Homo sapiens: one gene and its partners. The protein of the gene in region 1 purifies or fractionates together with the protein of each later gene. This does not show direct contact. Each region holds a gene or a part of one and is shown on either strand. Other genes may lie near its edges.

Region 1 (2,975 bases):
TCCTGGGCTCAAATGATCCTGCCGCCTCAGCCTCCCACAGTGCTGGGATTATAGACGTGAGTCCCCATGCCCAGCCTCCCTCGTTATTTTTATCTTTGGACCTGCAGTTTAAAAGATGCCTACCCTGTAAGTGATGGTTGGTTCATTTCCTCACAAGCAACAGTGCCAGCAGAGTCACGTGCAACGTGATGTTTTGGTTGACTAGGAAAGGCAGATTTTTGGTAAATTTGGGAATTATTGAGGTTCTAAGCTAGGGCCTTAAATAGTTCAGCTGTGTCAGCTCTGAGAAGGAGCTCGGAAACGGAGAGCAGCCTCCTGGCCCACATCAGCATGGCTGGTTTCTACCCACGAAGGCCCTGTTCCTGTGATGTAGTAAGTCAGGGGGCATCCCACATCCCCTGCCATGGGTCAGTCCCCTCAGCGCGGTGGAGGGGAAGCTCTAGGGCTGGTTGGTTCAGCAAACTGCGTGTCTAGGGGACCAGTCATCAGAGTCTGGGAGGTACCAGAAAATAAAGCCATTTTATTATGATTTTTTTCTCTGCCATGTGGCTGGGAATGGGAGGTGAGTGGATGGGTGTGAATGGCTGACCCTGCTGGAGGCCCTGCGGGGCTCTACTTGGCCTGGACTGTCTCCTCCAGCCTGTCCAAGCGCTTCTGGAGCTCCTGCACCGTGGCCTGGAGCTTCCGCATCTCCTCCTCCAGCCGAGACACGGCATCCTGGGGACCCGGTGCTGCATTAGGCCCAGCTCCTCCCTGGCTCCCCTTACCCCAGCCTCTGCTGAGCCCCATCCCTAGAGCCCTGGCCTTGGGCCCTTTAGTCGCTCAGCTGGTTGCTGCCTGGAGACCTGCAGGCCTATCAATCTGAAACCTGTGTTCTGAGGCCTCAGGATTACCATTCCCGGACCCACAAAGATTCCCAATGTTGTGAGTTTGAGGTGCCCCAAACACCAGCCCCACCCCACCCTCCCAGTTTTATTCCCTGGCTTCCCAGCCCTCTCACCGAGCTGGGAGTGCCACTGGCCTCTGGTGCTGCCCTCCTGCGCCCGGTGTCCAGGCCCCGGTTGACCCTCAGCTCCCGGCTCTTTGGGGGTACGTAGCCATCCTTGAGGGAGATGAGGAGGGGCCCAGCATCCCGACCCCCCAGCCACTCCTCAGCCGTGAGGGCAGGGTCGGGCCCTGCGGTGGGTGGGTACAGGTCCTCCTGGAACAGGTCCGACTGTGGGCAAGGCCAGGGATAGTGAGGAAAGCGCTTATGCCAGGACACCCCCCACAAGACCGCAAAGTCAGTGCCCAGCCTGGAGCCCAGGGTGGGGCGGGGGAGCATCACCTTTCGAGGCACTGTCATGGCAATGGGCTCACACCTCCGCTCGTGCAGCTTGTAGAACCTGTGGGAAGGGGAAGGTGAGCGGGGCCCACAGTCTGGTTGGGTGGGCTTGGGACTGCCCACTGCCCAAGGAGCATGCTGCGGTCAGGGCCGGGGGTCAGTCACCTGGCGATCTCACACTTGTTCACCTCCAGGCCACGTTTGGGCATGTAGCCCATGCCCCGCTGGGACTCCTTGGAACTGAACATGGAGAGATAGTGCAGGAAAGGGGCCTCGGAAGTGATCTCAAAGTACCGGATTGAGCTGTCACCCTGTAGGTGGCAGGTGTGGAGGGAGGGTCAATACCAGCGGATGCCCACTGCCCTGGCCCTCTCCAGGCCCATCCTGCCCACCTCCCACCCCCACCCCGCCCGACGAGGCCACCTTGCCACAGAGGTAGACGATGTTGGTGTCAGGGTCAAAGAAGGGCAGCAGGACACCGCTGCTGGTGTCCAGCTCCTGCAGGGACAGCGGCTCCTCCAGGTGCTTCTGTAGACACAGGTGAGAGGTAACATCCCAGGCCCTGGGATGGTGGTCTTCCCTGGGCAGTGACCTGTGAGGGCCCTCCCGACCAACCAGTGGGAACAACCATCTCACGCCTGGGTAAACTGAGGCCCATGGCCATCCTGCCAGGTGAGTGGCAGAGCAGGGACGAAACCTCCAGTCTTGGTTCCCAGCCTGGGGGCCCTCGGCTTCCTGCCCCAGCACTCACTGTGTCCCACAGCGCCACCTGCCGCTCACTCATGCGGCTGAAGCCCGTGGTCAGGATCTTCCCCTCCGACACGAACACTGCACGCACGGGCCGGGTCCCCTCGTGGGGACGGTCCTTCTCCTGCAAGGAAAGGGAGGTGGTAGGTCAGGCACCCGTACATACCCTACGGGGCCAGTCCCAGGTGGAGGCGAGGGAGGGCAGCATCCAAGGGCCTGGCTGATGGTGGATAAGAAGGATAAAGGCTGTAGGGTCAAAGGTCAGGGTAGATGGCGACTCACAGCTACGACAGTGCCTTTGCGGGGCTCGATGATGCGCACGCGCTTGTCACGGCAGGAGGTACAAATGAGGCCTCCATCTCGGCTCCAGTCCACACTGTAGATCGTGTCTGGGTGCACCTCTGGGCCCAGTGTCAGCATGGCCGCCCCAGTGCCCACGTCCCACACCATGATCACGTTGTCACAACCTGCACGTTCCCCACAGTGTCAGAAGCCATGAGCCTCCTGCCCTCATCCACTGCAGGCCACGAGCCACCCCCAAGCCCCTCCTCCCGCAGCACCTGCACTGAGCAGCACGTTCTGGGCTGTGGTGTGCCAGGCCACAATGCCCACACGCTTGGTGTGGCCCTCCAGGGTGACGACGGGCTCCCGCAGGGGCAGCATCAGGCCCCCATCTGGGATCTCCCACACCTGCAGAGGAGGGGCCAGTGAGTCTTCAGGACTCCAAATGTCAGATCCCATCCTAGAGCCCCTCTCCCAGCCCCTGGGTCCCCACCACCACTCACCATGACTGTGCAGTCCTCGGAGCCACTGGCAATGACGTTGTCATTGTGCGGGCACCAGGCGATGTCTAGCACAGGGGCTGTGTGGCCACAGACCGTGGGCGCATTCTTGTCCACACGTC
Region 2 (2,742 bases), on another chromosome or scaffold:
AACCCCATCTCTACTAAAAAGACAAAAAAATTAGCCAGGCGTGGTGGTGGGCGCCTATAATTCCAGCTACTTGGGAGGCTGAAGCAGGAGAATTGCTTGAAGCCGGGAGGCGGAGGTTGCAGTGAGCCGAGATTGTGCCACTGCACTCCAGCCTAGGTGACAGAGCAAGACTCCGTCTCAAAAAAAAAAAAAAAAAGAAATACCTCTACTTCTTCTACTTCTGCAGGCCACATAAACCTTGGGCCTGAAGCTGTGGGGTCTAGAGTTTACCCCTTGGGGTAACATGATCAGATGGGCCTAATCCTCTCTTAGTACTCTTTGGGCAGATAGCTCTGACTACCCTCTCCTTCCTGCCCAGGATCTTCTCTCTCTGTCTCTGTTACAGAAACCAACAGGGCTGGCCCCCCAGAACTAGTGATGGGCCCTGGACAGTACACGGGACACCAACCAGTGGCAGAGTTGACTGGCTTGAGAGGTGACATGGAGGCAAGAGGAGGGCAAAGTGGGAAGAGGAGGACAGAGAGAGGTGCAGAAACTGGAGTTAGAGGAGTCCTACAGTGGCCGGAATGGTCTATGTGGGCAGGGAGGGGGTGAGTTCTACTCACATCGGCAAACTTGTGGTTTCGGAAGTGGGACTTGTTGCACTTGAGGAGCTGTACAGCCAGGTTGCAGTCCAGCCGGTACCGCTCCTACAGACACAGACCTGTTTCAGAGCCCAGCCCAGCCCTCTCCAAGGAAGCAGGGCCGAGCCAGGACAAAGCTAGCCCCAGGTGAGGAAGGCCCGAGTAGTGAAGCGCACATACATTGAGCTCTTCCAGCTTGTTGATGGTGTTCTTGGCATCCAGCAGCTTGTTGGTCAGCTCCACAATCTCCCAGTCCAGCGTCTTCCTATCCATCTCAGCCTTCTTGATCTGAAGCACAGACTTGAGGTTAACCCAGCCCACACTCTAGCCAGCCCTTCCTCTCCCTCCACCTCCTCCCATCCTGGAGACACAAGAGGCCACAGGTGCTAGGGCAGCCAAGGCGGACAGAGCAGAGACAAATGACGGACAGACAGAAGGAGACTGGGCATCTCTCCCGCTCTCTGGACTGGCTGTGGGGTGGGGGCTTTCTTAGCATGACTTCCTGCCACCTGGGCCCAGGACACAGGCAGTATAAGAGCTGTCCATCCCCTGAGGTTCCAGGGGCTCTGGGCACCAGGCAAGGCAGCTGGTACCTCAACGGCAGTAACTGCAAACCAGGGGGCTGAAGCCTCCTATGTGTGCAGCTGTTTCCAGCATCAGGCTAGGAGAGGGAAGAGGAAGCAGGGCGCGGTGGCAGCCAGGGCACCTTGTTGAGCAGGGAGCAAGCTGCAGGCTCAAAAGTAGCCTTCTGATCTCCAGTTCAGGGACTGGATCTGCAGCCTCCCCTCCCCACTCCCACAGCCTGGGCTTGCTGCCACTGGAGCCAAGAAGCTTTGGGTGTTCAGTGGAGACATCAATCAGTACCTCTACCAGAGCCAAGGGCAGAGCAGGCTAGGCTCCCCACCTCTCTCCTGGGAGGGAGGCATTGACAGTTAAACGGGCCTCATACAGGGAAGAGAAAGGAGCGGGTGTACTCAAGGGGCACAGGGTAACAGCCAGGGCCCACAATCCCAGATCTCAGCTGAGGAGAAGGCCAGGGCAAGGGAGAAGACACACAAACTCAGACGCAACTGCAAAAATCCAGCTGTGGCTAAGAGAGGCCTGAGAGGAGAGTGCAGCAGCAACGGTGGCAGCATGAGGGGGAGACGAGGAAAGAAGAGAAACAGTGTGAGCATTAAGACAGTCTTGACTTGCAGAGCACACTGCAGTACCCCCACCACTGCCCCATCCCACCATCTCCCTCAAGCCCCAGGGCAGAGTGGCATTCCCCTGGCAAATCCTGGCCCCCTGCTATGCTATGAGCACAGTGCCCACCAAGCTGCCCTCCCAGACAGATTACCAGTGTGTGCAGCTTGTCCTCCAACTCCTGGTTGGTCCGCTGGGAAGCCGTGTAGCTGTTCTGCAGCCTGAAAAGGGATAATACAAGGCACATCCCTGGGTCAAGATCCTGTTCTTCAGGCTCTGTTCAGCCTCCCCGATAGGGGATCTTGAACATGTCATTCTCCCTCAAGAACTTCAGTTTTCTAATAGGAATTAGATGATCTCTAAGGCATCTTCCAGCTAACCTCCTATGAAAGGAGAGAGAGAGAGAGAGAGAGAGAGAGAGAGAGAGTGTGTGTGTGTGTGTGTGTGTGTGTGTGTCCCCGCATTCCCACACCTGCAGAACTTATCCAGTTTTCTAATAAGAATTAGATGATCTCTAAGGCATCTTCCAGCTAACCTCCTATGAAAGGAGAGAGAGAGAGAGAGAGAGAGAGAGAGTGTGTGTGTGTGTGTGTGTGTGTGTGTGTGTGTGTGGCCCCGCATTCCCACACCTGCAGAACTTATCCAGTTTTTTAATAGGAATTAGATGATCTCTAAGGCATCTTCCAGCTAACCTCCTATGAAAGGAGAGAGACAGAGACACAGAGAGAGAGAGAGACAGAGAGAGTGTGTGTGTGTGTGTGTGTGTGTGTGTGTGTGTGTGTGTGTGTGTGTGTGTCTGGCCCCTCATTCCCACACCTGCGGAACTTATCCTTAAATTTGTCCAGCTCCTCGCGGCTCTGGCCCAGCTCCAGCTCCAGGCAGTCCTGCCCAATTTCCAGCTCACGTTCCAGGGCCTCAGTGCGTCTGGTGGCGG
Region 3 (3,500 bases), on another chromosome or scaffold:
GCCTACTGTTAGATTTCAGTCTTGTTTTGACACTTGATTATTTTTTCCTTAGCAAAAGAATACATGCTTATTTTAATAACTTACATGATACAGACATATATAAAGAAAAAAGTATAGTTCCCTTTGCTCCCTACCTATCCCCCAACAGTTCAGTGTAGATTCTTTGATACCTTTTGATCTACTAAGTCTCTTTTGTATACCTTTTGGCTTTGTGTATAGAATATTGTATAACACAAGTTTTAAATTTTCATGTGGTCAGATCTTTTCTCCCCCACCTTTTGGCATCTGGATTTCTTTCTTGCTTTCCATTTTTACAATTCTTTTAATAGATGCTTATTTTCTTTTATATAGAAAAAAATACCAGTCATAAAATGGAAAATACATTTAGAATCTTGAAACCATTTGACCCTATTTTACTTATACCTTATAATCTGCATCTGTGAATTATTCATTAAGATTAAAGACTTTTGTATGTTTTATGTCTCTTTAACATGGTGACACATCAAGAATTAGTAAGCTGTGTGGGCTGGACTACTGCTGAAGAGCTGTATTCATGTAGTGATGATCACCAGATAGTGAAGTGGAACTTGTTAACCAGTGAAACAACTCAAATAGTAAAGCTTCCTGATGATATTTACCCTATTGATTTTCACTGGTTTCCAAAAAGTTTGGGTGTAAAGAAACAAACCCAGGCAGAAAGCTTTGTCCTCACAAGTTCTGATGGTAAGTTTTAAATAAACATTATATGCTCGCCATTGTATTTAAAAGACTTAATAGTATGATTTATGCTTTGAGTTGTTTTACAAAACTGGTATTTGTGGATCTGCATATTTTTATCCACATATTGTATTTCTTTTCTGAATAGTCACTTGGTTTGTGTATGGGCTATGAAATTATTGTCATGGAAGAAAGTTAGTTTAACTGGCATATACTAGGATTGAATATGGGTCTTTGGCTTTAATATATATATATATATATATATATATTTAGAGATGGGGTCTCACTCTGTTGCCCAGGCCAGAGTGCAGTGGTGTGATCATAGCTCACTGTAGCTTCAAACTCCTGGGCTCACACAATCTTCCTGCCTCAGCCTCTTGAGTAGCTGGGACTACAGGCACACACTATTACATCTGGTTAATTAAAACATTTTTTTTGTAGAGACAGGGTCTCATCTTGTTGCCCAGGCTAGTCTTGTACTCCTGGCCTCAAGCAATCTTCCTTCCTTGGCCTCCCAAAGTGCTGGGATTACAGGTATGAGCCACCATGCCCAGCTGGCTTTACTTTTTTAGTACTCTTATGAGTTGAGTTAAGCTGTTATCATAGTTTTAGTTCCTAAATTCTTCAAATTTAACTTAATATAACCACACTGAAAAGATATACCTATTCATTTAGTAAGGTATCTGTTAAAATACATACTTTATTTTCCAGTACATGTTAATTTTCAGTTACAGAGTTGAAGAGTTTTATAATTTGACCGCAGCTTTCTTATTGGTGAATAACAAGTATGATTTTTTTTTTCACTTTTTAAGGGTATGTTTTTATATTTGTTTTCTTAGAAATACGTGAACTGTTTTCATCTGTGTTATACTTTACCTGCTGTTTCAATTAGGAGTACATTGATTGAAAGTAACAGAAACTTATTTGGCTAACTTAAGCACAAATGGAGTTTTTTGGTTCACCTAGCTGTAGGGGTAGATCAAGCACTAGTTGCATCGGGTCCCTGTTCTCACCATCTCTTGGGTAGACTCTCTGCACATGGTGAACATGATGGTGAGTATGACGGTGGCCAGTAGCCCAAGGCTCATCATACTTTGTAAGACTGCTTCTTCCTCAGTATCTCGTGCAGGCAGCTTGCAGAGGGACCCTTAATGAGCTTGGGTCATATGCCCATCACTGAGTCAATCAGTTTAGTCAAGAGAAATGGACTTTGGGAGGCTGAGGTGGGCGCATCATTTGAGGTCAGGAGTTCGAGACCAGCCTGAGCAACATGATGAAACCCCCGTCTGTACTGAAATACAAAAAAATTTTAGCTAGGCATGGTGGCACATGCCTATAGTCCCAGCTACTTGGGAGGCTGAGATAGGAGAATTGCTTGAACCTGGAATGCAGAGGTTTCAGTGAGCTGAGATTGCGCCATTGCACTCTATCCTGGGCACAGAGCAAGACTCCGTCTCAAAAAAAAAAAAAAAGAAAAAAAGACAATGGGACACTGATTGAGCGTATCCAGCCTCAGGCCATCCACATGCAAAGGAAAAGAGAAAGAGAAGAGGGCTTTTGTAACCTGAAGATGGAAAGGATGTTAGGACAAACAGTAGTATCAGATTACACCTTATTTACCGAGAGACTTGTGGTAGTTTTTTAAAACTTTGTTTTTCAGAAACTTGATTAAATGAGATACATGTGTAAAATCACTTGGTAGAGTGCCTGGCACTTAGAAGATTGGCCCTGAACCACAGCTAGAATTTAGTTTACCTCAGGTGATAAAGGGAGTGTTTGACTTAAACAATTATTTTGATATAATTTTGCATTTACAGAAAAGTTTTAAGAATTGTACAAACAATTCCTGCATGTCCTTTATCCAGATTCACTAGTTTAACATTTTGTCCCATATATGTTGGGACAAAGTATTGGCTCTGTTTCTTTTTACACAAACCCTCCTCGCCCCCAGCACACACCCTTTTTCTGAAAGATGTGAGAGCAGTTTGCAGACATGTACTTTTAACCATGAATACTTCAATGCATTTCCTAAGAATAAGAATTTTCTGTTACATTGCCACAATTTGTTGATAAAAATCAGGACATTTAACACTGATGCAATGCTATTATCTAATCTATAGTTTATATTTAAATTTTAACAATCATTCTAATTTTCCATAGAAGTTTATTTTTGCTGGTATAGGATAACATATTGTTTTTGTTGTGTCTCTTTAGCTTCCTTTAATCTGGAACAACTCTTCAGTCTTTTGTGATCTTGACAGTGTTGAAGAATATATGCCTGTTATTTTATAGTTCTTCAATTTGTTTTTGTCTGATGTTTCCTCATGATTAGATTCAATTTATATGTCCTTAGCAGGAATACTCGGGGCATCAGACTAGGAGATTTATGATGTTGGTTTGACCCATTATTGGTGATGTTAACCTTAATTATAAGTTAATAAGTTCATGTTCATTAAGTTAATCTCTGTAAAGTTACTATTTATTCCTTTTAATAATTTATGAAAAGATACTTTGAGACTATGTAAAAATATTATCTTCTTCATCAAACTGCCTCCCACTCTCTTAGCATCTATTGATGACTCTTGGCTGAGTCATTTATTACTAAGATAGTTTGCCAAATGGTGATTTTTCCAACTCCGTAATTTCTTCCATATTGATTAGTTGGTATTCTACTCCAAGGAAGAGCTTCCTGTCCCATGCCCATATATTTATTTGTTTTTTTGGGGTCAGATTAGACTTGTAGATTCTCATTTTATTTCATAAATATATTATTATTATCATTT
Region 4 (3,500 bases), on another chromosome or scaffold:
ACCAGAGGGTGAGCCAGGCCAGTGGGGCCTGGCACCAAAGAAAGCAGAGGCTTCAGGCAAGGAGTCAGTGGACTAAATAAAGAAGCAGGGAGGCCGGACGCGGTGGCTCACGCCTGTAATCCCAGAACTTTGGGAGGCTGAGGTGGGTGGATCACCTCAGGTGGGGGAGTTCGAGATGAGCCTGGCCAACATGGTAAAACCCCGTCTCTACTAAAAATACAAAATTAGCTGGGCATGGTGGCATGCGCCTGTAATCCCAGCACTTTGGGAAGCCGAGGTGGGTGGATCACCTGAGGTGGGGACTTCAAGATAAGCCTGGCCAATATGGTAAAACCCTGTCTGTATTAAAAATACAAAATTAGCTGGGCGTGGTGGCATGTGCCTGTAATCCCAGCTACTTGGAAGGCTGAGGCAGGAGAATTGCTTGAACCCGGGAAGCAGAGGTTGCAGCAAGCTGGGATCATGCCATTGCACTCCAGCCTGGGTGACAGAGTGAGACTCCGTCTCCAAAAAACAAACAAAAAAAAAAAGAAAGAAGCAGGGGTGGAGCTGGAACCCTTGTGATTCTAAAGCTAGTCAAGGAGAAAAGATTTGAAGGAAGAGCCAAGGCAATATGGAAAAAGAACAAAGACAGGCATGCGTGGTGGCTCACACCTGTAACCCCAGGACTTTGGGAGGCCAAGGCGAGTGGATCACTTGAGGACAGGAGTTCGAGACCAGCCTGACCAACATGGCAAGACCCTGTCTCTACCAAAAATATAAAAATTAGCCAGGATGGTGGTGCATACCTGTAATCCCAGCTACTTGGGAGGCTGAAGCACGAGAATCGCTTGAAGCTGGGAGGGGGAGGTTGCAGTGAGTTGAAATTGTGCCACTGCACTCCAGCCCGGATGACAGAGTGAGACTCTGTCTCAAAAAAAAAAAAAAAAAAAAAAAAAAAGAACGAAGAGGAGGCTCCTGCCAAACAGGATAGCAAAAGTTCTAATTGTTAAAATAAGTTACTAAACAGGAACAAAATAGTACCTGGAAACAGATACAAGCAAATTTAGTGTTTGTGAAAGTTGGCACTTCCTATCAGTAAAATAAGGATAAACTATTCAAAATGTTTGAAACAACTAGCTAATTATTTGGAAAAAATCTCCCCCTTACCAATAGTCACAAAAAGAAACTTTAGATAGATTAAAGAATTCAAGCCAGGCACAGTGGCTCAAGCCTATAACCCCAACACTTTGGGAGGCCAAGGTGAGAGGACTGCTTGAGCCCAGGAGTTGCAGACTAGCCTGGGCAACATAGTGAGACCTAGTCTCTGCAAAAAAAAAAAAAAAAAAGCCAGGCATGGTGGCGTGCACCTTTGTTCCCAGCTACTTGGGTGGCTGAGGTTGAGGCTGCACCAAGCTATGATTGTGCTGTGATCATGCCGATGCACTCCAATCTGGCCAACACAGTGAGAGAGACTCTGTCTCAAAAATAAATAAATAAACAAATAAATAAAAATAAAAAGTTGATATAACTCTATTCCATTAAAGTAATGGGAGTGTCTCACATTTTATTTAAACCACGTTCACTGGAAAAAAAATGTGGCTACCTTAAGAGTTTTATAAGAAGTATGTGGCCAGGCACAGTGGCTCACACCTGTAATCCCAGCACTTTGGGAGGCCGAGGCAGGCGGCTTACTTCAGGTTAGGAGTTCAAGACCAGCTTGGCCAACATGGCAAAACTCTGTCTACTAAAAATGCAAAAGAATTAGCTGGGCGTGGTGGTGCGTGCCTGTAGTCCCAGCTACTCAGGAGACTGAGACACAAGAATCGCTTGAACCCAAGTGGTTGAGGTTGCAGTGAGACGAGATCGCGTCACTGCACTCCAGCCTGGGCGACAGAGCGAGACTCTGTCTCAATTAAAAAAAAAAAAGTAGTCATTCTGTTTTCATGTAAACAAACTTGGAGGCCAGGTATGGTGGTTCATGCCTGTAGTCCCAGCACTTTGGGAGACTGAGGCAGGAGGATTGCTTGAGCCCAGAAGTTCAAGACCAGCCTGGGCAACATAGCGAGACCCTCTCTTGATTTTATTAAAAAATTGAAAAACAGGGCCGGGCGTGGTGGCTCACGCCTATAATCCCAGCACTTTGGGACGCCGAGGTACGCGAATCACGAGGTCAGGAGATCGAGACCATCTTGGCTAACACGGTGAAACCCCGTCTCTACTAAAAATACAAAAAAAATTAGCCAGGCGTGGTGGTGGGCTCCTATAGTCCCAGCTACTCAGGAGGCTGAGGCAGGAGAATGGTGTGAACCTGGGAGGAGGAGCTTGCAGTGAGCAGAGACTGCGCCACTGCACTCCAGCCTGGGTGACAGAGCAAGACCCCATTTCCAAAGAAAAAAAAAAAATTGAAAAATTGAAAAAACAAAAACGCAAACACAAACGCAAACAACTTGGCCATTGTATGTTATGTGTATTTAACAGAACTGTTGGCTGGACGAAGTGGCTCATGCCTGTCATCCTAGCACTTTGGGAGACCGAAGCGGGAGGATCACAAGGTCAGGAGCTCGAAACAAGCCTGACCAACATGGTGAAACCCCGTCTCTACTAAAAATACAAAAATTAGCCAGGTGTGGTGGCATGCGCCTGTAATCCCAGCTACTCAGAAGGCTGAGGCAGGAGAATCGCTTGAGCTCAGGAGGCAGAGGTTGCAGTAAGCGCGCATCACTGCACTCCAGCCTGGGAAACCGAGAGAGACTCTGTCTCAAAAAAACAAAAAAAACAAAAAAAAAAACAGGCCAGGCGCGGTGGGTCACGCCTGTAATCCCAGCACTTTGGGAGGCCGAGGTGAGCAGATCATGAGGTCAAGAGATCGAGACCATCCTGGCCGACAGGGTGAAACCCTGTCTCTACTAAAAAAAATACAAAAAATTAGCCAGGCGTGGTGGCGGGCGCCTGTAGTCCCAGCTACTCAGGAGGCTGAGGCAGGAGTATGCTGTGAACCTGGGAAGCAGAGCTTGCAGTGAGCCAAGATTGCGCCACCGCACTCCAGCCTGGGCGACAGAGAGAGACTCTGTCTCAAAATAATAATAATAATAATAAAAATAAAAAAATAAAACATATAACTGTTTTCCTAGCTCTCAGTTACTTGCAAAATGCACAATCAAACATTATATTCCCAGTGCTCAGAGCAGAGGTGGCACATAGTTGGGCCCAGTAAATATTTTTTGACCACATTAATTTAGTACATAAGACACCAGAAAAAATTCTCAAAATTTAAATATAATAAACCCTGGTTTCCAAAAATGGTAAAGTTATTTTAAAATACTTTTTAAAAAGATTTGTCACCTAGAATATTACTTTGTATTTATCACTAATTAAAATATTAACAGTGAAAACAAATAGTAACAGAAAACAGGAGAAACATTTACAATTAACAGGAAAACTACCACACAATAATACAACAAAAACATTTACAATATTTAACAAAAAAATTGATACCCAGAACAGGTAAAGAATTCTCA

Evidence for each region.
Region 2: the proteins of CORO1A (region 1) and TJAP1 purify together in Homo sapiens (affinity purification with mass spectrometry; 3 studies listed by BioGRID and IntAct, with this or other methods). This does not show direct contact.
Region 3: the proteins of CORO1A (region 1) and IFT80 purify together in Homo sapiens (affinity purification with mass spectrometry; 3 studies listed by BioGRID and IntAct, with this or other methods). This does not show direct contact.
Region 4: the proteins of CORO1A (region 1) and VARS1 purify together in Homo sapiens (affinity purification with mass spectrometry; 4 studies listed by BioGRID and IntAct, with this or other methods). This does not show direct contact.

What each region holds. Positions count from the first base shown.
Region 1 is NC_000016.10:30,186,602-30,189,576, reverse strand, and holds the end of CORO1A (coronin-1A), read right to left. Parts: coding exon 2,857-2,975; intron 2,762-2,856; coding exon 2,632-2,761; intron 2,539-2,631; coding exon 2,354-2,538; intron 2,196-2,353; coding exon 2,076-2,195; intron 1,853-2,075; coding exon 1,748-1,852; intron 1,636-1,747; coding exon 1,490-1,635; intron 1,386-1,489; coding exon 1,328-1,385; intron 1,217-1,327; coding exon 1,001-1,216; intron 718-1,000; coding exon 613-717; 3' UTR 501-612; downstream 1-500. UniProt on the Homo sapiens protein: May be a crucial component of the cytoskeleton of highly motile cells, functioning both in the invagination of large pieces of plasma membrane, as well as in forming protrusions of the plasma membrane involved in cell locomotion.
Region 2 is NC_000006.12:43,501,570-43,504,311, reverse strand, and holds part of TJAP1 (tight junction-associated protein 1), read right to left. Parts: coding exon 2,625-2,742; intron 2,030-2,624; coding exon 1,963-2,029; intron 1,725-1,962; coding exon 1,695-1,724; intron 912-1,694; coding exon 804-911; intron 690-803; coding exon 606-689; intron 1-605. UniProt on the Homo sapiens protein: Plays a role in regulating the structure of the Golgi apparatus.
Region 3 is NC_000003.12:160,378,726-160,382,225, reverse strand, and holds part of IFT80 (intraflagellar transport protein 80 homolog), read left to right. Parts: intron 1-501; coding exon 502-723; intron 724-3,500.
Region 4 is NC_000006.12:31,785,753-31,789,252, forward strand, and holds part of VARS1 (valine--tRNA ligase), read right to left. Parts: intron 1-3,500. UniProt on the Homo sapiens protein: Catalyzes the attachment of valine to tRNA(Val).